4 separate regions of the Homo sapiens genome follow, and all the other regions are linked to region 1. The links come from fine-mapping of genetic effects on gene expression. A gene starts in region 1. Each other region holds a variant in brackets. All regions are shown on one strand. Distances are between the middles of the regions.

Region 1 (5,129 bases):
GCGCGACCCCTGCTCCTGGGGTCCTCTGGGGTCCTCTGGGGTCCTCCCGCACACCCAGGCCAGGCACACCCAGGTTGCGAAGCCGAGTGCCTCCCCGTGCGGCCGCCAGGGAGCGCCCCAGGCCTGGCCGAGTCCCCCGCCCTCCACCCCGCCAGGCCCAGGAGAATTGATAGGCGGGCCCCGAAGCACGTCTTCCCGGAAACCGGACTTCACCCGCTCCCGGGCTGCCATCCGCGGCTGGGTGACGCTCACGTCCCCGCGATTCGGTGTCTCTTGGCCTCCTGCCCCGCTGACCTGGGAGTGCCAGGGATCACCCCGCCCCCAGCGAGATCCCCTCTATCGCACAAAATGGGCGCTAGCGGGGGTCATTCTAGTCCGGCTGCCTCACTCTCCCGACGGTCCTCCAGGGTGGCACCATCACCGTTCTCGCCCGCCTCCAGCCGGCCCATTCCTGCTGCTCCCTACAGCGTTGTCCCTGCCCCGTGCCCTCTTGTGGTCGTAGGTATCTGGCGGCCCGGGAAAGACAAAAAGAAGCTGCCCGCAGGAGCCCAGACCCTGGGGGCCTTCCTCCCCTTGTCTCCTCTTTGGACTCGGGGGTCTCCCACCAGCCACGGCGAGGGGGAGAAAGAGAATAGCTGGGCAGAGGCTAGGGAAGACCCCCGGTCTCAGAAACTGAGGGGAGCCAGGACTCCCGGTGGGGGAGTCGGTGCAAGCCCTGAGGTGGGTGGATGGGAGTCCAGGGCCACAGCTCTGCAGCGGACAGGCGAGTCCTGTGGCGGCTCTAGGAAGGTCTGGGCACACTGGGACCAGCTAGCTGGACCTGGGTGGGGAGGGGTGGGGCGTCTGACTCCACTCCTGTGACCTGGACATTGCCTAGCTGAGCAGGAGCTTTGACCCTATGGGCTTACAGCTCATCTGAATCTGCTTAGTCCATCTTCCTGTTGTGTTAACCTTGCAGAGGGGGAAGAATGCCAACTCTCCACCCCTCTTCCATCACTCTTGGGTACCTGATCCACCTTCCACCCTCATGGGCAAGGAAGGGGACAGGAAGGTCACCAATCCAACCAAGCCACAGTGCCAAATCCTGTTGGTTCGTTTGTTTTCCCTTGGTTGGGTTATGTTTTCAAACCATCAACAGATTCATAGTTGCTAGTGGATGTCAAATTTCAAAACGGGGGAGTCCCAATACAGTGACTTGTCCATTAGGAAGCCATAGGCAAGCCACTTACTTTCTCTGAGCTTCAATATCCTTGTCCCAATAAGAAGGCATCTGTGATTTGCTCTGAGCACATATTTAGGGTGAGCTTTCACCCTAAAGATCTCAGCAACGGCAGCTTCTACCCACCTTCACACACCAAAGAGAGGGTGGCTTCCCTCCCAGCAGAAGGCAACATCCCGCCATTCCAGTGTGCTTCTGATCAGGGCACAGAGAAGAGCCAGTTTCATCTTCTTTCTTTTTGGTCAACTCCAGGCATCTGCAACAAACAAGATTAACAACGACCATTAAAACTGGCCCCTGGAGGGTTTATCTGTCAGCCACGCATGGCTGCAGGATCTCATTATATATAGGCCAAAGGGAAAGGATGTCTGCTTCCTTTCTGTCCTGGAATTCCAAGATAAAATCCCCTCCAGTTGTCTCTACTGATTCCATTTTGTTTTCTTTCTTGGCTGTAACACAGATAGGAGGAAAAATCTTTCCTCCCCCAAGGCAGAGTTTTAAACGCATCATCTCAGAATGCCAAATGTTCTGGAAAGGAAGAAAGTTGGCAGCGAAGGAACCCGCAGAGAGAGGGGCTGAGAGGGCTGAGGGGCCCAGCAGCTTCTGGCAGGCTCCTCTGGTCTGTGTTTGAAATTGGCTGAAAAGACATGGAATTTAGTAGGCAAGTCTGCCTCCTTCTCCTCCTCTTATCTGCAGAGGAGAGATCAGTTCCCAGCTGGCCGGGGCAGTGTCATTGATATAGCTGGTGTCATTGTTACCTTCCACTAACAGATCACTCGACACCTACCAGCCCAGGCAGGGCTGGGACTGGGCATTTCCTGGCTGAGCTGGAGGCTTGGGCCCTTCCCATTGTCTCAGAACCCCAGGTGATGCCAAGACATGGGCTCTCCTGGGATGCCGTGCTTGGTGACCCAGGAGAAGGACTAGATTGCTCCTGGTGGTTGCTCCCCCTTGCAGAGTCCCACCTGCCCCTTTGGGTCCTGTTGCCTGGCCTCTTTTGCTGTCCTGGGTAGAGGAGATGAGTTCGTCGCTGGCTGCAAGCTGAGGCCAACTGACAATGCTGCACAGAGAAGGGGCACCGAGAGTGGCCCCGGATTGAGCAGTCCGTAGTGCAGAGCAGCCCCTCGGGCGTTCTGCCTGGCCCTGCTTCCCCTGCTGGCTGCCCTTCTGGTGCGTGCATCCCAGGTGGCATCATGCTGCAGCAGATCCTGCACGACATGTACATCGACCCCGAGCTCCTTGCCGAGCTCAGCGATGTGCAGAAGCACATCCTCTTCTACAAAATGCGGGAGGAGCAGCTGAGGCGCTGGAAGGAGCGGGAGACTTGGGAGGCCCTGGCCCAGGACGAGGGTCTCAGGCCTCCAAAGACCAAGCGAGGTACGTGGCTGGGAGTCACAGAGAGGTAGGCCACCAGTCCCCCAGGAGGTAGAAAAATTAGCAGGGCCAGGCTGTGCCCTTCTTCAAGATGGGCACTGGGGTGATGAGGGCTGGGGGCTTGAAACCCTTGTCTTGTGGGCATCAGGTCCCATGAGCCTGTGCTTTTGCCTTTTGGCCAGGACCTTAGGGCTTCGAGGCTGCTGCAGAGGCTGTCCAGCGGCCCTTATTGGAGTCGGGGAGTTGGGACTTGCTTTGTCTTGTTGTGGAAGGCCCGAGTTCTGGGAAGACACCATTGAGACTTCAGATTGTGCTCCGACGTGGTTGGCAATGGTAGGGTGAACGACGGCATATTTGTGACCCTTGCCATTGGTTCTGGGCCAGAGTGTGGTGTAGATATGCAGTTCCTTTCTCCTTGGCATGCGTGGCACACCAGTTCTTGGCTAGGGCCCCTTCTGTGGACTGTGCCTCTCCCTCCAGATCCTCCGGCAGGAGGATGCTGTGGGTTGTCTCTGGAGCCCCACTGGGCATCCGGAGAGAGGGCATCAGGGAACGTCCCACACAATGAATGACCATCCCCAAATGGTCGTAGCAACTGCAGATGAGAAGCAAGGGCCTAGCCTACATTTCAGGTGTTTTGTATGCAAAGTCATGTGCCAGTCAATCCTATGGACTGGTACACCTGTGGGTGAAGGAAATCATCCAGGACCCCTGGGCCAGAAACTGGCAGGCTGCTGAGGCTTGGCTTGGCACAGGACTCAATCCTGCCAGGGATTGTAGTTTCTGTGGATGCTGCATGCACTTTACAGTTTGCAAGGCTTATGTGCCTTCACCCTTTGAAGTTTTCAATCCAGAACAAAGTCCTGTTTCAGGGCTGAGCACACAGCTCCCTTGGTGATCTGGCTCTTCTCCATGCCAGGCTCACTGCTGGCCAGTCCCCACCAGGTGCCACAGGCCACACCCACATCATCTGGACATGCTTGCTCTTGTCTCTGGTCTTCACATGAGTGGCTCTCACCGTTGGGAATGTCCTTCTGCCTTCATCCACCTGACAGACTCCATCAGGAGTGGCCCCCCTGCCCTGGAGTGTTCAGGGATGCTCTTGCATAGGGCAGTACTTGCTCCTCTGTGGCTGCCTGGCATGTAGGACCCACGCCTGCCCTGGCATTTGCCACCCTGTCATTGTCATTCCTCATCTGCTTGCCTGGCTCTCCGATGGGCTCAAAGGCACTGGTGTGTGAGGGCTTCCTCCACTCTATCTTCCTCCCCTGGGCCCAGCACAGAGGTGGCACATGGTGTTAAATCCTTGTTTTGAACAAGACACAGCAGGACCCTGCCGGGGAGGTTGGGGCAGAGCTGTGACTTGGCTGCAGGTGGCTGCTGCCAAAGCTGGGGCCTTCCGGGCTGGGCTGCGCTGGCAGCTGCATCACTAACTGGTGAAATGACAAGCCACCTTGCCAGCACCACCCGGCCTGAGCCCTGGGGACTCATGATGCCTGCATGATGACTCTTCTTGGAGGGAGACAGATGCCTAAAAATTTAACTGCAAAAATATTTATACAGAGATTTGTCACACATAGACATCTACATTTTCATGTATAAATTATACATTAAACTCATTTGAGTTTCTGGTGCAGAAGATCCTTTTTCTGGTAATTAATTTTCTGATTTATAAAGAATGGAAAAGCAGGAAAGCACGCCGAGGAATGTGTGTATCCCAGGTCAGGATCCCGCTTGGATCCTGGCTCTTTGCTTCGGTCCTGCCTTTTGGAACTGTCTGGGCATGCCACTGGGGAGCCTGGGGGCTGGCCCTGCCCAGGAGCCGGAAGAGCTTTCGGCCGGAGGGTCCAGGATATACAGTATCTGCTTCATGTCCTGGGGTCGTGATGAAGGGTGGCAACAACTTGTGAGCTTTACGTTGACTGGGTGCCTACCCAGCCCTTGCTGCTCCCGTGTCCCTGCGGGGTGGCAGGGCAAGCTCCCTGATTTCATTGCAGATAAGGAAGGTGAGGCTCAGAGAAGTGATGCGCTACATCCAAGGTCATCCAGCTGCTACATCTCATGACTTGGATCTGGGGTCTGGTGACTGATTTTTTTTCTGTTCATTCACTTCCAAACTCGGAACTCCAATTAAACAAGTGAGCTGTGCACACATTCACTTGTTCACTCATTCACCAATTCATTCACTTATCCAGCATTACTATGTGCTGATTTCAGTGAATGGGGCAGTGCTTGTCCTGGAGACGGTGGGTAGATGGATCATAGGGAACACAGCCAACTCGAGTGCCAAGGGTGAGGCTTGGTTCAAAGCAGCCGTGCCGTGTCCCAGGGCGGGAATTGTGCGGGGACGGGCTCCACGGAGGAATCTTCTCTTCCTTCCCTTGATGTTGCCAGAGGACTCAGGAGGCTCTCCAGATGCTGGTGAGACCCCAGCCCCAGTTGATGTCCAGGCTCTTGAAACTGTCTTGAGAAAGAACTCGGGAATGAGTCAGAATGATAGGAAAGGCAAGAAACTGTTAGTGAGAAGCGAAAGTAC
Region 2 (5,152 bases), 90 kb after region 1:
GCATTTTCTGTCTGGTTGACAAAAGAAGAATGGAATATCTTTGCATAGTTTTATAGTATGTGTCTGTGATAATTGTTAACTATTCACTCTTAAAATATTGCCTCCTCTCCTCTCCTGTGGGACTCGGATTCTATATATGTTAGACTTCCCATTCCATCTGCCATGTGTCTTAACCTCCTGAGATTTAGATTAAGCTTCTCTCATGTTAGATTTATATAAATGCCCCATGGGTGTGTCATGCCTGGTCTTCATTCTGACTTTTCACTCATCTTGTCCCTTCTCTCCCTCACACCTCATTACTACCCCTCACTGCTTACACAGAATCTATCTGGCCTTCAAGGCCCACCTCACATTCCCATTCAGTGCCTCCACAGAGCCTTCCCTGATTTCTCAACCTCTTCCTTCTTGTTTATTTCACAGCATTTACCATCCTTTGCATGAGACAACATGGTATAGAACAGAGAGAGCACTGGACTTGGAGTCCGAGGACCTGAGTTCAGATCTGCCTCCACCACTTAATAGATTCTCTGTGACTATTAAGCCCTGTGACTTTGGGTGAATCCCTTCTTTTCCTGACATTCAGTGTCCTCAGTTGTGAACTGGTTATAACAGGGTTGATAGGAAGACCAAAGGAGAAGGGTCACAGAGGCCCCAGATCGTGCCTAATGCTGGCTGTGACATAAGCGTCTCACAGGAGCCTGAGTGTGTCGTTTAACCTCTGTGCGTCAAAATGGAAGCCATTTCTGGGAGGGTAGGGGTCAGAGAGCCAGATATCAATGGTACACTGTGAAATGTAGCCATGAAGCAATTCTTAAGTGAGGAAGCCCTCACTGAGCTGAAATCCTTGGCTCTGAACCGTAATCCTTCAATCCATTTTCCACACTTGAACATTCTTATATCTTTCTTCTGTATAGGAAACATCAGTGGCTGTCCGCTGCCCTCAGAATTAATCCTTTCAGTGGTATGGAGAGCCCTTTGGAGCTTGACTGCTGCCTATCGTACACCTCTGGCCATTGCCCAGCTCCCAGCTTAGCCCTCCCTCCAGCCACAAAGAGCCACTTGCTAATGACTTTTGCAATCTTCCCTCCTTGCCTTGCCCCCTCTTGTCCCTTTCTGGACTCAGTCTAAACATCACTTCCGCCGCTGGGCTCCAGAACTGGGTGGGGTGCCTCCCTTAGGTGCAGCCACAGTGCCTGAGCCAATAGCTTATGTGGCCTTTATCACCATTGCTCACAGTTAGCCTTTTATTTTTATATTACAAAATTCCCATCAATCTTCATTTCTGTCCAGAGTCAGAGCTTCTAGAAGGCAAGAACTGTGTCTCATTCACTGCTGACTCCCAGGTGCCAAGTTTGGGGCCCGGCTTCTAGATGGTGCTTCATACATATTTATTAAAGGGAGGAAGAAGAAAAGGAAGAAAAGGAAGGAAGCGGGGAGAGAAAATGTTCCTGGAAACTATAGGAAAAACAATGTTTACCATTGTCTGGGAATGAGAACTGGCTCAGAATCAATCTTCAGTTGCATTCTCCAATATTCATTCTAAAATTGTCACCCTGGAGCGTTGGCTGGTTAGGCTGCATCCCTTAGCCAGGCCCAGTCATTAGCAGAGTGAGGAAGTTTCAAGGACTCGGACAGTATGCTAGCTCCCCAGCTGGAAGGGGTGAGGTAGGGCCTTCCCCTGTTTCCTCAGCCAGGAGGTTGTAGGGTGCTCAGAAGAAGCAGAGGTGGGTGATGATTCATGCTTAATTCCCAGACCCTCTGTAGTTGGCTGAGAGGCAATCCAGGGGGAGAGAGAGATCAGAGGGTGATATGGTTTTGCTGTGTCCCCACCCAAATTTCATCTTGAATTCCCACGTGTTCGGGAGGGACCCAGTGGGAGGTAATTTGAGTAATGGAAGCAGGTCTTTCCTGTGCTATTCTCGTGATAGCAAATAAGTCTCATGAGATCTGTTGGTATTATAAGGGGGAGGTTCCCCACAGAAGCTCCTCTTTTTGCCTGCTGCCATCCACGTAAGATGTGAGTTGTTCCTCCTTGCCTTCTGCCATGATTGTGAGGCCTCCCCAGCCATGTGGAACTGTAAGTTCGATAAACTTTTTTAAATTGCCTAGTCTCAAGTATGTCTTTATCAGGAGCATGAAAACGGACTTATACAGAGGGCAAAGTGAATGGGGAAGGAAAACATAGATTCTCCTTGCAAGCATCCTATGCTAATTCTCTTGAGGGGTTGGGTTTTCTATGGAATGCTGTTTGCTATCCTGAACTATGAGGTTATATTACCTTTGGTTTTGTGCCAAATTGCAATTTTGATTTCTAGGCAAATGTATTAGGCCATTCTTGCATTGCTATAAAGAAATACCTGGCCAGGCGTGGTGGCTCATGCCTGTAATCCCAGCACTTTGGGAAGCTGAGGCGGGTGGATCATGAGGTCAGGAGTTTGACCACCACCAGCTTGACCAACATGGTGAAAGCCCGTCTCTACTAAAAATACAAAAATTAGCCAGGCATAGTGGCGCATGCCTGTAATCCCAGCTACTCAGGAGCCTGAGGCAGGAGAATTGCTTGAATCTGGGAGGTGGAGGTTGCAGTGAGCCGAGATCGTGTCACTGCACCCCAGCCTGGGTGACAGAGCGAGACTCTATCTCAAAAAAAAAAAAGAAAAAGAAAAAGAAATACCCAAGACTGGGTAACTTACTAATATATAGAAAAGAGGTTTAATAGACTCCCAGTTCTATAGGCTGTACAGGAAATATGGCCCTAGCATCTGCTCGGCTTCCAATGAGGCCTCAGGAAGCTTCCTATCCATGGTGGAAGGCAAAGGGGAAGCCAGCATATCACATGG[C/T]GAGAGGGGATGCAAGAGAGAGAGAGTGAGGGGGAAGATCCTACAGACTTTTAAACAACCAGATCTCACAAGAACTCACTCACTATCCTGAGGATGGCATCAAGGAGATGGTGCTAAACCATTTGTGAGAAATCACCTCCCACTAGCCCTACCTCCAACACTGCAGATGATAATTCAACATGAGATTTAGAGGGGACACACATCCAAACTATATCAGCAATATCAAAAAGGAGGCAGAATTCACAGAGACCTAGACAGTCTCCCAGAAATGGCCCAGCTAAGTTTATGGTGCTGAAGTCACCTTCAGCAGCCTATGTTTGAGAGAATTGAGTGTGTGTGTGTCAGGGGTTGTGGTGGGGGACACAGCCTGACAGTCCTGTGACCATTGCAGCTACCAGCACCAGGCAGTTTGCAGCACTAACACATGTGTAGAATACTTAGTGCATCCAATGCAGCTAGTTATATTGTATTAGATATTTATTGTGATTTTTAAGCACTGTGCTAAACGTATTCATGCATTAACTTATTCATTCTCAAACAGCCGTAAGACATAGCTATTAATATCAATACCACTTAATAGATGAGGACCTCAAACTCGGTTTCAGAGAGGTTGAAGTCACCTGCTCTCAAGGCTACCCATGGAACAAGTCCCGGGTTATGATTTGTGTCCATGCTCTTCATCACTGCTGCAGAATCCCTGCCAATGTCCCAGGCATGGAGGATGTAAAGATGAGTTGTCTGTGTCCGTCAGGTCTTCCATGAAGCAGAAGACGAAAGACTGATTGGAGGAAATGCCTGTGAAGGACAAAGGGGGAGGGTGCTGGAGAAGGTGGGGAGAGTCTTCAGAACACGGTACACATCTGACACCTGTGGAGGGAGAGAGGGAAGAAGGATGATTGGTAAGTGAGCCTGCTCCTGGAGTACAGCTCAGAGAAAAATCTTGGCCAGGCTGATTGAGAGCCCCAGAGCAAAGACTGCCTGCTAGAGGAATCTTGCTTTGGGTAGGAATGGTGGCTCTAGTACCCCTGTGCCCTGCCCTTGACTGGAAGCACCCTAGGGAGAACATGACCCCATGGAGGATCCTGAAGGGCATGATGCTGCTCCCAGCAACAGGTCTCTGTCTTGGAGGGAGGCCTGGGCTGCTTGCTCCCATGGCAGCCACAGGCCCCAGCCTTGAGCGGCTCATAGCCTATTTACTAATCTACTGTGGGGTTTTGGCAGGATGTTGTGAAAACCCAAATGTGGGATATCCAAGACAGTCTCCTGGGAGATAAAGGATTTCCTGATCAGCTGAGCAGGTTGCACACTGAACTGGGGGACCTGAGGGGTGGGGATAGTTGGGGAGAACAGAGGATTGATGTGCAGGCACTGCCTTTCCCAATCAAGCTATAGGCTTTGTGGTTTTGGCCCAGAGAGGCACATTTTTCTAATTCAGTTACTCAGGTCATCTTTTCCTAACTTGCACAAAGGTAGAGTGTAGGCTGCCCATAGCCCATGATTCTGGGGAGAGAAGAGGATGGGGCTTTCAATGAGGAGTCAGGGTCAGCTGGAGTGAAGGGGGCTGGGATGTGGCCTCAGTCCAAGGTCGGCTTGTGGGGAGCAGCCAGTACCAAACAGTGCGATGAGCCCAGAGGGGTAGGTTGAGGCGGGGCATAGAGCCTGCTGTCTGCTGTGCCTGAGCCTGGGCTCTGCTGGAAGTCAGGGGAAGCTGCTCAAGGGTTTTAGGTGGGTGAGACACATAACATCGTCACTTTGGTATTACTGGTCGTTTTGGCATGTTAAAAGTCAAGTCCACAAAATAACGTGTTGGCAAGTGTTGGAGGAAAGAGACCCCTTGCACATTCTCTTAAAGCATGAAAATACAAATTAAAATAGAAGTACCCCATAATCTCAGCAACCCCATTACTGGGTATTTATTCAAAGGATATGAAATCAGTATGTCGAAGAGATATCTATACTGCCATGTTGATTGTAGCATTATTCACAATAGCCAAGATAGGGAATCAATGGAAGTGTTTGTTTATTTATTAATGTATTTTTGAAATAGAGCCTTGCTCTGTTTTCCAGGCTAGAGTATAGTGGCATGATCATAGCTCACTGCAGCCTTGAATTCCTGGGCTCATGTGATTCTCTCACCTCAGCCTCTTGAGTAGCTGGGACCACAGGCATGTGCCACCATGCCCAACTAATTTTTTATGTTTTTGTAGATTCAGGGCCTTGCTATGTTGCCCAGGCTGGTTTTGAATTCCTGGGCTCAAGCGATCCTCCCACCTTGGCCTACTAAAGTGCTGGTATTATAGGCATGAGCCACC
Region 3 (5,152 bases), 73 kb after region 1:
TGCAGGGGGGTCTCATGTGTCCAAGTCTATGTAAGCATCTGGGAACCGCAGTTCAGACACGAAAGCAATGACGAGCTTGGCTCACCTGTGAGAAAACTTTAAAACGTATCTACTCCCTCGTCTAAACTCTTCCCGTGCTCCTCCTCCTCCCGCCCTCCGTGCCTTCAGTCCCTCACCCATTCCATCCGTAGTTACCAACGTGTGGTTTTGTTTCCTTCCGCCTCCGTATCCTCTGTCATAGTTTTTATTTTCTGGGCAGGGAATCTCAGCCATTTCCAGAGCAAATTGAGGTTCTCCAGCTTCTCTCTCTGTTCACTGCCCTGGTTCTGCCTTACAAAAGCGCAGGAGTTGTGGCACAGGCAGGCGTCCCCTCAGAGGGCGGGGAGGGAGAGCTAAGGAGGGGACAAGACCCAGAATTGTTTCTGAGAGAGAGAAGGGGATGAGACACGCTCATTTACTTTCCGTCAGGAGCCTCCTTCATCCATGCTGGTATTTATGCCCTGGCCGTGCTCGAGGGAAAATGTGCCTTTTCTTTCCCTCAGACACCCCCTCCTAGCCTCTTTTCATTCTCACCTGTGTGGCTGTTTTTTGAAGCAATCGGTAACAGTTTTCTTTTAAATAAATAATAACAGATGGTACATTATAATCTGCAAAATGCCTTCGAGTACCTGGGCTGTTTTAATCCTCTTTGTAGGCATGGATATGGGCACCATGCTTAGCATATTCATTCTCTCATGGCCCTCCCCTGCCCCTTCTTCCACCCCCCCTTCCTCCTCCTCCTTTTACCTTCCTCTCCCTTCCTCTTTCCTTCCCCTCTGCCTTCCTCTCCCTCCGCTCTTTCTCCCTCCCTGACTCTTCTGCCCTCCCCACTTTCTTTCTCTTCAGCAGGACCTGGGAGCGCCCGCTGCGCCCAGTCTCCAGAGATGTCATCGTCCGCTGGTTTAAGGAGGAGCAGCTGCCTCGCCGAGCTGGCTTCGAGAGGAACACCAAGTTCATCGCCCCCTGGTTCCATGGTAGCACCATTTTTCTGGGCCCTGTGCCAGATGATTTCCACATCTTTGCCTCTCTCTGGGGTTGGGGAGGGGTGCTGAAGGACAGTTATAATCAGGGGGCAGAGGACTTTAAGCAATCTCCATTCTGTCCCTCTCCCAGTGGGAGTCCAGGAGGCTGCAGGCCCCAGGGATGCTGAACGGGCCTCCCAACTCTTCTGGGAAGGGATGAACATGGCTCTCGCCCACTGCTGTCACCTCACAGCCTCTGTAGCCACCAAGGGCCCCTCAGAGGCATCTTCTTTGTGGTCATAAGACAGTGAGCCCTGAGAGTTGCATGAGCTGCTGGTGGCTAGGACCCCCATCCCTGGATCCTGGCCACAGCCTGTCACACTGTAGGCTCTGGGTACATACTTGTTGATTAGATGACAGATGGCTGAATGAAGAGGTCAGTGTCACCCAAACATAGACTGTTAGGGCAGGGTGGCTCCTTGAAAGTCCCTCCTTGCTCACCTTGTTTCCAAAGCTCTGGCCTTTTTCCTGTCCCTCAAACAAGCCATCCTCTTTCCCATCTCAGACCTTTTGTGCTTGCCGTGGCTCTGCTCACATTTTCTGTCTTCCAGCAGCTCTTTGCATGGCTGGCACATTCTCATTTTCCATCTCAAACATCCCCTCCTCAGAAAGGCCTTTCCTGAACTCCTTACCTACAGCAGCCTTCCCCAGTGTCCCTCAGCTCACCCTGCTCATTTCCTGGACAGAGTGTGCCCAGTTGGTATTTATCAGATTTACTTATTGTCTGTCCTCCCACCTGAATGTGAGCCTGTGAGGTTAAGGAGCTTGCTTGTTTTCCCTGTGCCTGGCTCAGTAAGTATCCATGGGAAGAATGGATGAAGGTGGGAAGAAAATGTTTGGATTGGGATTAGATCCCAGGCTTTACAGTTCCGAAGAACAGCCCTTGCTTCTCTGCATTGAAAATCCAGAGCCACACATGTGAGGGTCAGATGAGCCTTCCCAGGTGGTCTTAATGCTTGGTGAGGTCAGGGACCTATGTATTAGGCCTCTCTGTATTCAGCCCTCACCCCTGCCTCTCACCCAGGGACCAAGTACAGAAATACCTCCAAGATGAGCTTGCCATCTTCCTCTGTTGCCACTGCTGTTGAGCTCTCCAACCCAATGAATAGCATCCGTGTCATGTTGGTCAGATTGGATATACCTCGGTCACAAATGCTTCTGAAGTCTCAGTGACCCCCACCAGTCAAGGTTTATTTCTTACACATGTTACGTGCCCTTTGGGAGTTGGTTCAGACTTTAGTCTGCGCCTCAGCCTGAAGGAGCTGCCTCTATTTAAAACGCTGATGGTTAGTCAGGCGCAGTGGCTCACGCCTGTAATCCTAGCACTTTGGGAGGCTGAGGCAGGAGGATCACTTGAGGTCAGGAGTTTGAAACCAGCCTGGCCAACATGATGAAAGCTTGTCTCTACTAAAAATATTTTAAAAAATTAGCCAGGTGTGGTGGCAGGCCCCTGTCATCCCAGGTACTCAGGAGGCTGAGGCAGGAGAATTGCTTGAATCTGGGAGGCAGAGGTTGCAGAGAGCCGAGATTGCAACATTGTACTCCAGCCTGGGCAACCAGAGCGAGACTCAGTCTCAAAAAAAAAAAAAAAAAAAAAAAAAAAACATTGATGATCTCATGACAGAGGGAAATGAGAGACTTGGAGAACCACACATTGGCTCCTAAAGCTTTTGCAGGAAACTGACACGTCAAGTTGTTGCTCACATTCTGTTAGCCAGAACCAATGTGGCGTCCATGGTACAGTGGATAGTTTCGAAGGATAATCTAGTCTGTTATGACCACCGTCCACTTTCAGACCTCTTTCTTCTCCCAGGTCACCACACATCTGGCAGAAGGTTGGACTGGCTCTTTAGGGCTCAGAGAGAAGACAGCACTCATGGCTGACTGAGCCATGTGTCCCTGGAGCTGGTGCTGGGGATTCTCTGCCTCTCCCTTCTGTCCCAGTTATGTGTCCCT[G/A]TAGCCCCGGTAGAACTTCCATTTAAGTCACCACTGTGCTTTTTCTTCAGACGTTACTATGGTCATGGAAGTGCAGCACTGGCATCTTAGGGAGCTGTGGAGTGTAACTCAGGAGTGGCACGTGGGTGAGAGTGGGCAGCTGTGCCGGGTGCTCCAACTGCCTTTGGCAGCCAGTGGAGAAGGTGCGACCAAGGTGCTCAAATTATTTTTAGCTTTGTTTTCTTTTTTGACTTTTTTTTTTTTTAAAAGGTAACTTTTATATTGTCACAGAACAAACAGAACCAAGATTTAAGTCTCACAATTTATGTAGCTAATTTCATGTTCTGACAGTTCTACCATAAAGCATGCAGAAAAGTTGCTGTTACACAGGCTGGAGCTATTTTGTGACAGAATTTTCACTGATCTGTGACAGAAGGAAAGAAAAAGGCTCACATATGGAGGGTGGCCAAGTAACTTTGCTTAGAAAGGACTGTGTCATATTCTAAGATTATATCCTTTCCTCAGTTTTAGTGTTAAAATGTCCTATCTTTTATGAATTGATGGGATAGTAAGTCATGGTTATTTTTATATATTGCCTTTGCTTGAAAAAGTAAAAAGTTAGCAGCCCGGGACCTCCCCCACTCCTGCTTTTTTTTTTTTTTTTCAACTTTACTCACTTATAAAATCCCAAAGTCTGGAACAGTGAGTGTGTTCCCACTTCTCTTTCAATATAGGAATTCCCTGGTGGAGGGGCTAGGACTTCCTCTGTACCAATTCCTACAGAGGCAGGTGGCCTGCACCAGTCTAATTTGTTAAGGAGTTTTTGCTGCAGGTTGGCAGGGGACTCGGCTCTCCCTGGGCTTGGTTGGGCGTCTCAGCTGGGGCATCTCTGCACCATGGATCTATTACACTCTTCTGGGACCAGTGGGCCAGCTCAGGCATGCTCTTCTCATGGTGACAGGACAGACATCAGAGAGCAACTGGAAGCATGCCAGGCTCTTGAGCCCTATTCTTAGAGCCAGCACCTTGTCACTTTGCCTTGTACCTCACAGAGCTGAGGAATGGGAAAATATATTCTGTCTTTTTCTTACGAGGAACTGCAGAGTCCTATGTCAAAGGGTGTGGCAACAGAGAGGGAAGAAGAATTTGAGCCAATAATATAATCTGTCAGAATCCCAATACAAATCTTTTCTTTCCCAGATAAAAGAGTCTTAGTTAATTCAGTTAGATTTCATATGCAGGTTAAACATGACTACTCGAATGATTTCCTTCCCTTTCCTCAAACACATGTGGATTTGTGCCAGTGTTATCCAAACAGCAAATAGACAAAGAATCTGAAGATATGGGGTCCATTCTAGAACTTAGCGGCTCTGAGACCTTGGATGTGTCCTTTAAATTCCCCATCTGTGAAACTGGCATTGTAACATCTACTTCACAGGACACTTACGAAGATTGAGCCAACAGGAGTGCTTTGTCCACCATAAAAAGCCATGCCAGTGTGTTTCCTGATGTTTCCTGGGATCTGGGGTCAACCACCAGAGGCTCCTTTGGGAAATCAGGTTTGGGGAAATGGGCACAGAGTGCAGAGTGAGAGGGGACTGGGAACAGGCTTTTCTCTGGGACCACAGGGTTCTAGGTAGAGTCTCCTGGGTTACAAAGAGTGATAGTAATTCCTTGTTTCTCCTTTGTTCATTGTTATGTTCCAGGAATTGGGAGAGAGATTGTAGTTATATCAAACTACTTGTGAGAAATGCTAGTACATATAACCTTGGCTTTGGGGAAAAAGGTATTTTCAAAATTCGACATGTATCTAAAATTATTAAGAATGTTCTCTGTCTGAACATTGGCTCAGTCAGAACCCATTTCTCTTCCTGAGCTTTACTTCTACAAAAACAGTCACAATGTGGTCTATGATTTATTGTCTGGGTGACAACCCATTGGCTGCCTTGCTGCTTGCCCATAGGGCTTGGCACAGAATGGGACTACCCGGTGGGTGACATCATTGGCATTGGTAAATTATCTCCATGTGACCCTGCTCAGGTGCTGGGAGTGGATCTCAAGCGTGGCCTCACCTGGGCTTGGGTGGGCCTTTGGCTGTCCTCTGTAGGGTGTTACTGGCATGCTTCTTCGTGAGCAAGCACAAACGGGGGACCCCA
Region 4 (5,152 bases), 42 kb after region 1:
GAGACGGAGTCTCGCTCTGTCGCCCAGGCTGGAGTGCAGTGGCGCAATCTCAGCTCACTGCAAGCTCCACCTCCCAGGTTCATGCCATTCTCCTGCCTCAGCCTCCCAAGTAGCTGGGACTACAGGTGCCTGCCACCACGCCCGGCTAATTTTTTGTATTTTTAGTAGAGACGGGGTTTCACCATGTTAGCCAGGATGGTCTTGATCTCCTGACCTTGCGATCCACCCGCCTCAGCCTCCCAAAGCGCCGGGATTACAGGTGTGAGCCACAGCGCCCGGCCTTTTTTTTTTGTATTTTTAGTAGGGACGGGGTTTCACCGTGTTAGCCAGGATGGTCTCGATCTCCTGACCTCGTGATCTGCCTGCCTCGGCCTCCCAAAGTGCTGAGATTACAGGCGTGAGCCACCACGCCTGGCCTTAGACCACTGAATTTTCTGGTAATTTGTTACTCAGCAGTAGACAACCAAAAACAGCTTCACCAAGGGATTTATGCATTGGGTTAGAGATTGGCTTAGATAATTTTTTTTCTTTCTTTTTTTTTTTCGAGACAGGGTCCGGCTCTGTTACCCAGGCCAGAGTGCAGTGGCACAATCTCAGCTCACTGCAACCTCCGTCTCTTGGACTCTAGCCATCGTCCCACTTCAGCCCCCCAAGTAGCTGGGACTACAGGGATGCACCACCATACCTGGCTAATTTTTGTATTTTTTGTAGCGATGGGGTTTTGCCATGTTGCCCAGGCTCATCTGGAATTTCTGAGCTCAAGCAATCCGCCCATGTCAACTTTCCAAAGTGAGATAATTTTTACTGTGTCTTTCAACAGTAGGGTTCTAACATTCTGAGTCTTGCTTGTAGGAATGTACCAACAACCTTCATTTAATACTCTCTTTTTTTCCTGAGAACCTAAGGGGAGGCTGTTTGTTGTGGGGGAGGAGGGGAGAAATAAACTACCAGCTCTCAAAAGCTTACAGGGTGCCAGGGGAGAGAGAGACAACTCCATGAGCAACCCTTAGTGCCAACCACACCCCGGGGAGTATAATGGAGGGCAGAGGAGTAACTTTAGAGGTCTGGGCATGAGCAAGCACAAGAGATGGAAAGGAGAACTGTAGAATGATGAATGGTCTGCTGGAAGGAGAGAGAAAAAGTTCATGATGGATGGAGCCAGACATACGCCTGGAAAGGAGGTAGGGTGTGAAGCTCTTAAATGCTACATTAAGGGGGTGGACTTTCCTCTGTGGGCAAAGCAGGATCTTGATACAAAGAAGGATGTGGTCAGATGAAGTTTTAGGAGCACCACTGATGGCAATGATGTGATTCAAGTGATGAGTTTTCAGGCAAGGAGACTAGTTAGGAGATTTTTGCAATGGTCAAGGCCAATGAGCAAGGGTCTGGACAGAGTCTATGACAACGAGGAAGGAGAGAAGGGATGGATATAGCAAAATGGTGGTGGTGAAATCAATAGGGCTTGGCATCAATTAGATGTTGGGATGAGGGAAAGCAAAGAGCAAAGACATCCAAGTCCCAAGCTGGGAGATGAGGAGATGGCAGCACCATCCCACCATGGGGAGCTGGGGAGGGTGTGCAGATTTGCAGGAAAGAGAAAGTGCTTAGATTGACTGCATTGAGGGATTTTTACCCCACAGAGAAGGGAGATAGGTGGAGGCTGGAGGAGAGGTGAGAGCTTGGGTGAAAAGCCTGGTGATGGAGAGAGATGGGCTGGGCTCACTTTCTGCAGCTCATGTTGAGGATGTAGGCAGGTTCTGCTAATTCTCCAGGTCATGGAAAAGGTAATAATGACAACTGCATTCTGAAAATGGAAAAAAAAATCCCAGAATCTTTATATTGGGTTACAGAGGGAACTCTGAAGATGAGACAGCTGGAAACCGGTTTTTAAAAACCATTCTGCTGTGGCTGGTGCCATTTGAATGTAATTTACATGCATATAAAAGTGTTCCTTTAGAAAAAAGGAGATCCTGAGGCCAGATAAAATTTGCATTTATTTCCCCCGTGCTTTCTTAACTCCTAAAATTGCTTCTGGACATTTCTCCTTCTGTTCAAGACCACAGAACACGGCTCAATAAACATCC[T/C]GTGCTCTTCTTCCACCCCGGGGTCCTGTGACCTTCCTTCTCTGCTTGCAATCTCCCTCCCTCCTCCCACTCCCACCTCTTCCTGGTTTTACTCTTAACGAACAGACATGGTTGATTCTGTTCAGTTGTTTATTAATTTTTTTTCCATTTTCTATTCAAGGCCACTCCCTTTTTTTTTCTCCTTTAAGTTTGGAGTTCCTTTTGGCCACCTAATGAACTCCTATACAACTTTAGAAACGATTACTGCTTTATTTCCAATAAGATTAGAAGTGGTGGGAAAATTTTCTACTTCTCAATTTTCTCTTGAAAATTTTAGACTTTACCAGAACTTCTCTAGGCAAGGCTGACGCCGACAAAACAACATGATGTGGTGTACCCTGTCCCTCCCGGGGATCATCACAAACCCTGTCTTCTCTTTACCTGTTTGATAACTCATTCACTTCTCTGGTCAGCATTTATGGAGCACCTGATATCTGCTATGTCCTGTGCTGTGAACTGGCAATGGAGGAATGAACAGCATAGGTTTGGTTCTGCTTTTTTGGAGTGCTTCAGCTCACTGTGGTGTTATTGGGGCCAGACTAACAACAAAAATGAGGATGCCTTTGTCACCTGAAAAATGATGAGGTTCATAAATTTGGAAAGGGGAGCTTTATATCTCCTAAAGGGTTGCAGCCTGCAGGTGGCTATTTTGACAGGCTGGGAAGCCCAGCTTCTGGTCAGAAGCTGGTAGCAGGCACTTTGAGGCAGGGAAGAATGAGACAGGAGTTTATGCTGACCAGGTTAGCTGAGTCTACATATTACAATTAGACCCTATACATCAAAAGGCAAAGCAGAGGGCGTGAAGGCCCTTAGGGTACATCCTCTGTAGACTGGCCAGAACTACTCTGTGGTCGGTGGTCTCTTATCAGGAAGGAAGGCTGGTCAGTTGTTGTGTCAAAACCATGAAAAGGGAGGGGCAGCATCAGGCTGTTGGTTGATATCAGTCTTTCAAAAGGGCTGGTTTCTATTTAGTCCTTAGGGAAGAAAGCCTAATGGTGGTTACTGAGGCAAGTCTGATCTCCTCTCCCATCATGGCTGGGAACTCAGTTTTTAAAGTTTCTCATGAGTCCCCTTGGCCAAGAAAAGGTCTGTTCCATTGCTTAGGGGGCCTAGGATTTTAAAAAATTTTTCACTTTCTAGAAAAGGCATTTGTCTTGATGACATTTTCCACAGGATTCTGGCAGACCCTGGCCTCTGTGGGTTCCTGTGGTGTGCTGTTACTGATGGGTTATGAGGAGAAGGGAGATTGAATAAGCTGGACAGCTCAGAGGGCTTTGGGCAGCCAGAGCAAGGCGATTAATTCCTAGGCAGCAGGGGAGTCTTTGCGTGTCTGGCCTTTTGGCTGCTAAACCTCAGAAAAATGGGCTTTTCTTTCAGTGGTATTAGATGGCTCAGAGAATTCTGGTAGTTGCAACAGCAATGAGAATTTTTAGGCAATTTCAGCTTTGAGCGTTATTTTAGCAAGACCATGTGTAATGCAACAGTAGTTGCAAAATGTTTTCCTTTGTCGTCCCCATCCTTGTGAAGAGCTTTCCTTTATCACAGTAAATGGCCAGTCATTTTCCTCTGAGATGGGCGGTTGCTGTAGGCCTCTGGTTCCCTGGGTGGTGTCCTACTCTCCAGGTGAAGAAGAACTGATTGAACATGGCCCTACAATTTAACTTGCTGCTTCCTTTTAGTCACAGCCAGTTGAAGTAGGAACATTGCATTGTAATCTGAGGTGGTTAAGGGCCACTTATCCACCATAGGCCAGTCAGACACTTATCCACTGTGTGCCAGTCATTTCCTGGGCTCCAATCTCCTTGTTATGGGCTGAATTATGTCCCTGCTAAAATCCGTATTTTGAAGTCCTAATCCCCGGGACCTCAGAATGTAACTATATTTGGAGATAAGCTCTTTACACAGGTAATTCAGTTAAAATGAGATCGAGTGGGTTAGACCCTACTCCAATATGACTGCTGTCCTTATAAAAAGGGAGATTTGGACACAGACGGGCACACACTCAGAGGGAAGGCTGTGAGTGACACAGCAAGAAGGCAGCCAGCCAAGGAGAAGGGCCTCAGCACGAAGCCAACCCTGCCACACCTTGACTTTGGATTGCAGCCTCCATGATTGAGGAAATAGAGTTCTGTCATTTAAGCCTCCTCAATCTGTGGTACTTCGTTATGGCGGCCTGAGCAAATTGATACACTCCTTATCTGCACAAGGAAGTGGCAGCATGCAGTTGATGTCCCTCTGGCTCTGACAGGCCTTGACTGTATTCTTCCTGACACCTGCTCCTGCCTGGAAGACCCCAGTGGGTCAGGGGTGGGTCCTTTGGTATACTTCAATAGATCAACAAGCAGATAAAAGGAGATAACTGTGCATTTTTACTCCTTTGTTTTAAAAATGACAAGATTTTTGTTCCTTCTGACCTGACATAGACTGGGGACTTTTCTCCAATTCAATGATTAATTTTTTAATGCTAAAAGTAGACAAAATTCCGATTTCCTTATGACCCACTCTCTAAGAGTTGGGAATTAAGGGCTAAAGAAGGTAAGTGACTTCTTCTAATTGTTCACCAAATACTTTTTCATCTGTTTTTTCCAGGCTACCACCTCCCTCCCTCTGGCCAGAAGAAGAGGGAAAGTTGAAAGGGAAACGCTGGGGTGTTGGGGTATCAGGCAGAGTGAAGGGAGCAGGAGGGAAACGGGGAGATTAAGGAAAGGTCTGAATTCTGAATGGTGGGACCTGCAGCCAGGGTTGCCCCTAGGGTGTACAGAGTTGGCAAATATTTCTTTGTGCAGTCTTTGTTTATATTAAAAATCCGAGTCACATAAAATCAGCCTTTTAGCACTATTCTGGTGACCCAATCTCATGTGATCCTCTGCTAAAAATACTGTGCTGGCAAGGGCTTCATCTGGTTGCTAGGCTACCCTTCTGGAACCAGGACCCCCGCACTGGGGCCCAGGGTGACTTCATAAATAGGAATCCTGGAGTTCCTTGGGATATCTGCTCAATCTCTTGATGAGGGATATGGTCAGAGAGCA

What was found.
Region 2: its variant is fine-mapped to the expression of SH2D4B in whole blood (TOPMed, PIP above 0.99).
Region 3: its variant is fine-mapped to the expression of SH2D4B in thyroid (GTEx, PIP 0.93).
Region 4: its variant is fine-mapped to the expression of SH2D4B in lung (TOPMed, PIP above 0.99).

Annotation. Positions count from the first base shown.
Region 1 is chr10:80,535,920-80,541,048 of GRCh38, forward strand. It overlaps SH2D4B (SH2 domain containing 4B), which reads left to right and starts at 1,983. Exons shown (of 8, transcript NM_001388272.1): 1 at 1,983-2,596. The coding sequence starts at 2,413. TSPAN14-AS1 (TSPAN14 antisense RNA 1) reads right to left here and starts at 23. Exons shown (of 2, transcript NR_120661.1): 1 at 1-23. RefSeq lists a silencer at 21-210 and enhancers at 281-380, 3,687-3,826, 4,864-5,043.
Region 2 is chr10:80,626,387-80,631,538 of GRCh38, forward strand. All of the region lies in intron 6 of SH2D4B (SH2 domain containing 4B), which reads left to right. LOC105378387 (a long non-coding RNA gene) reads right to left here. Exons shown (of 2, transcript XR_946132.1): 2 at 3,300-3,707. Among named protein-coding and RNA genes, the nearest start is that of LINC02655, 21 kb to the right of the region's middle. The variant C/T (reference allele first, on the strand shown) is at 2,841.
Region 3 is chr10:80,608,539-80,613,690 of GRCh38, forward strand. SH2D4B (SH2 domain containing 4B) reads left to right here. Exons shown (of 8, transcript NM_001388272.1): 6 at 886-1,013. Among named protein-coding and RNA genes, the nearest start is that of LINC02655, 39 kb to the right of the region's middle. The variant G/A (reference allele first, on the strand shown) is at 3,018.
Region 4 is chr10:80,577,445-80,582,596 of GRCh38, forward strand. The region is part of intron 3 of SH2D4B (SH2 domain containing 4B); the gene reads left to right. Among named protein-coding and RNA genes, the nearest start is that of SH2D4B, 42 kb to the left of the region's middle. The variant T/C (reference allele first, on the strand shown) is at 2,085.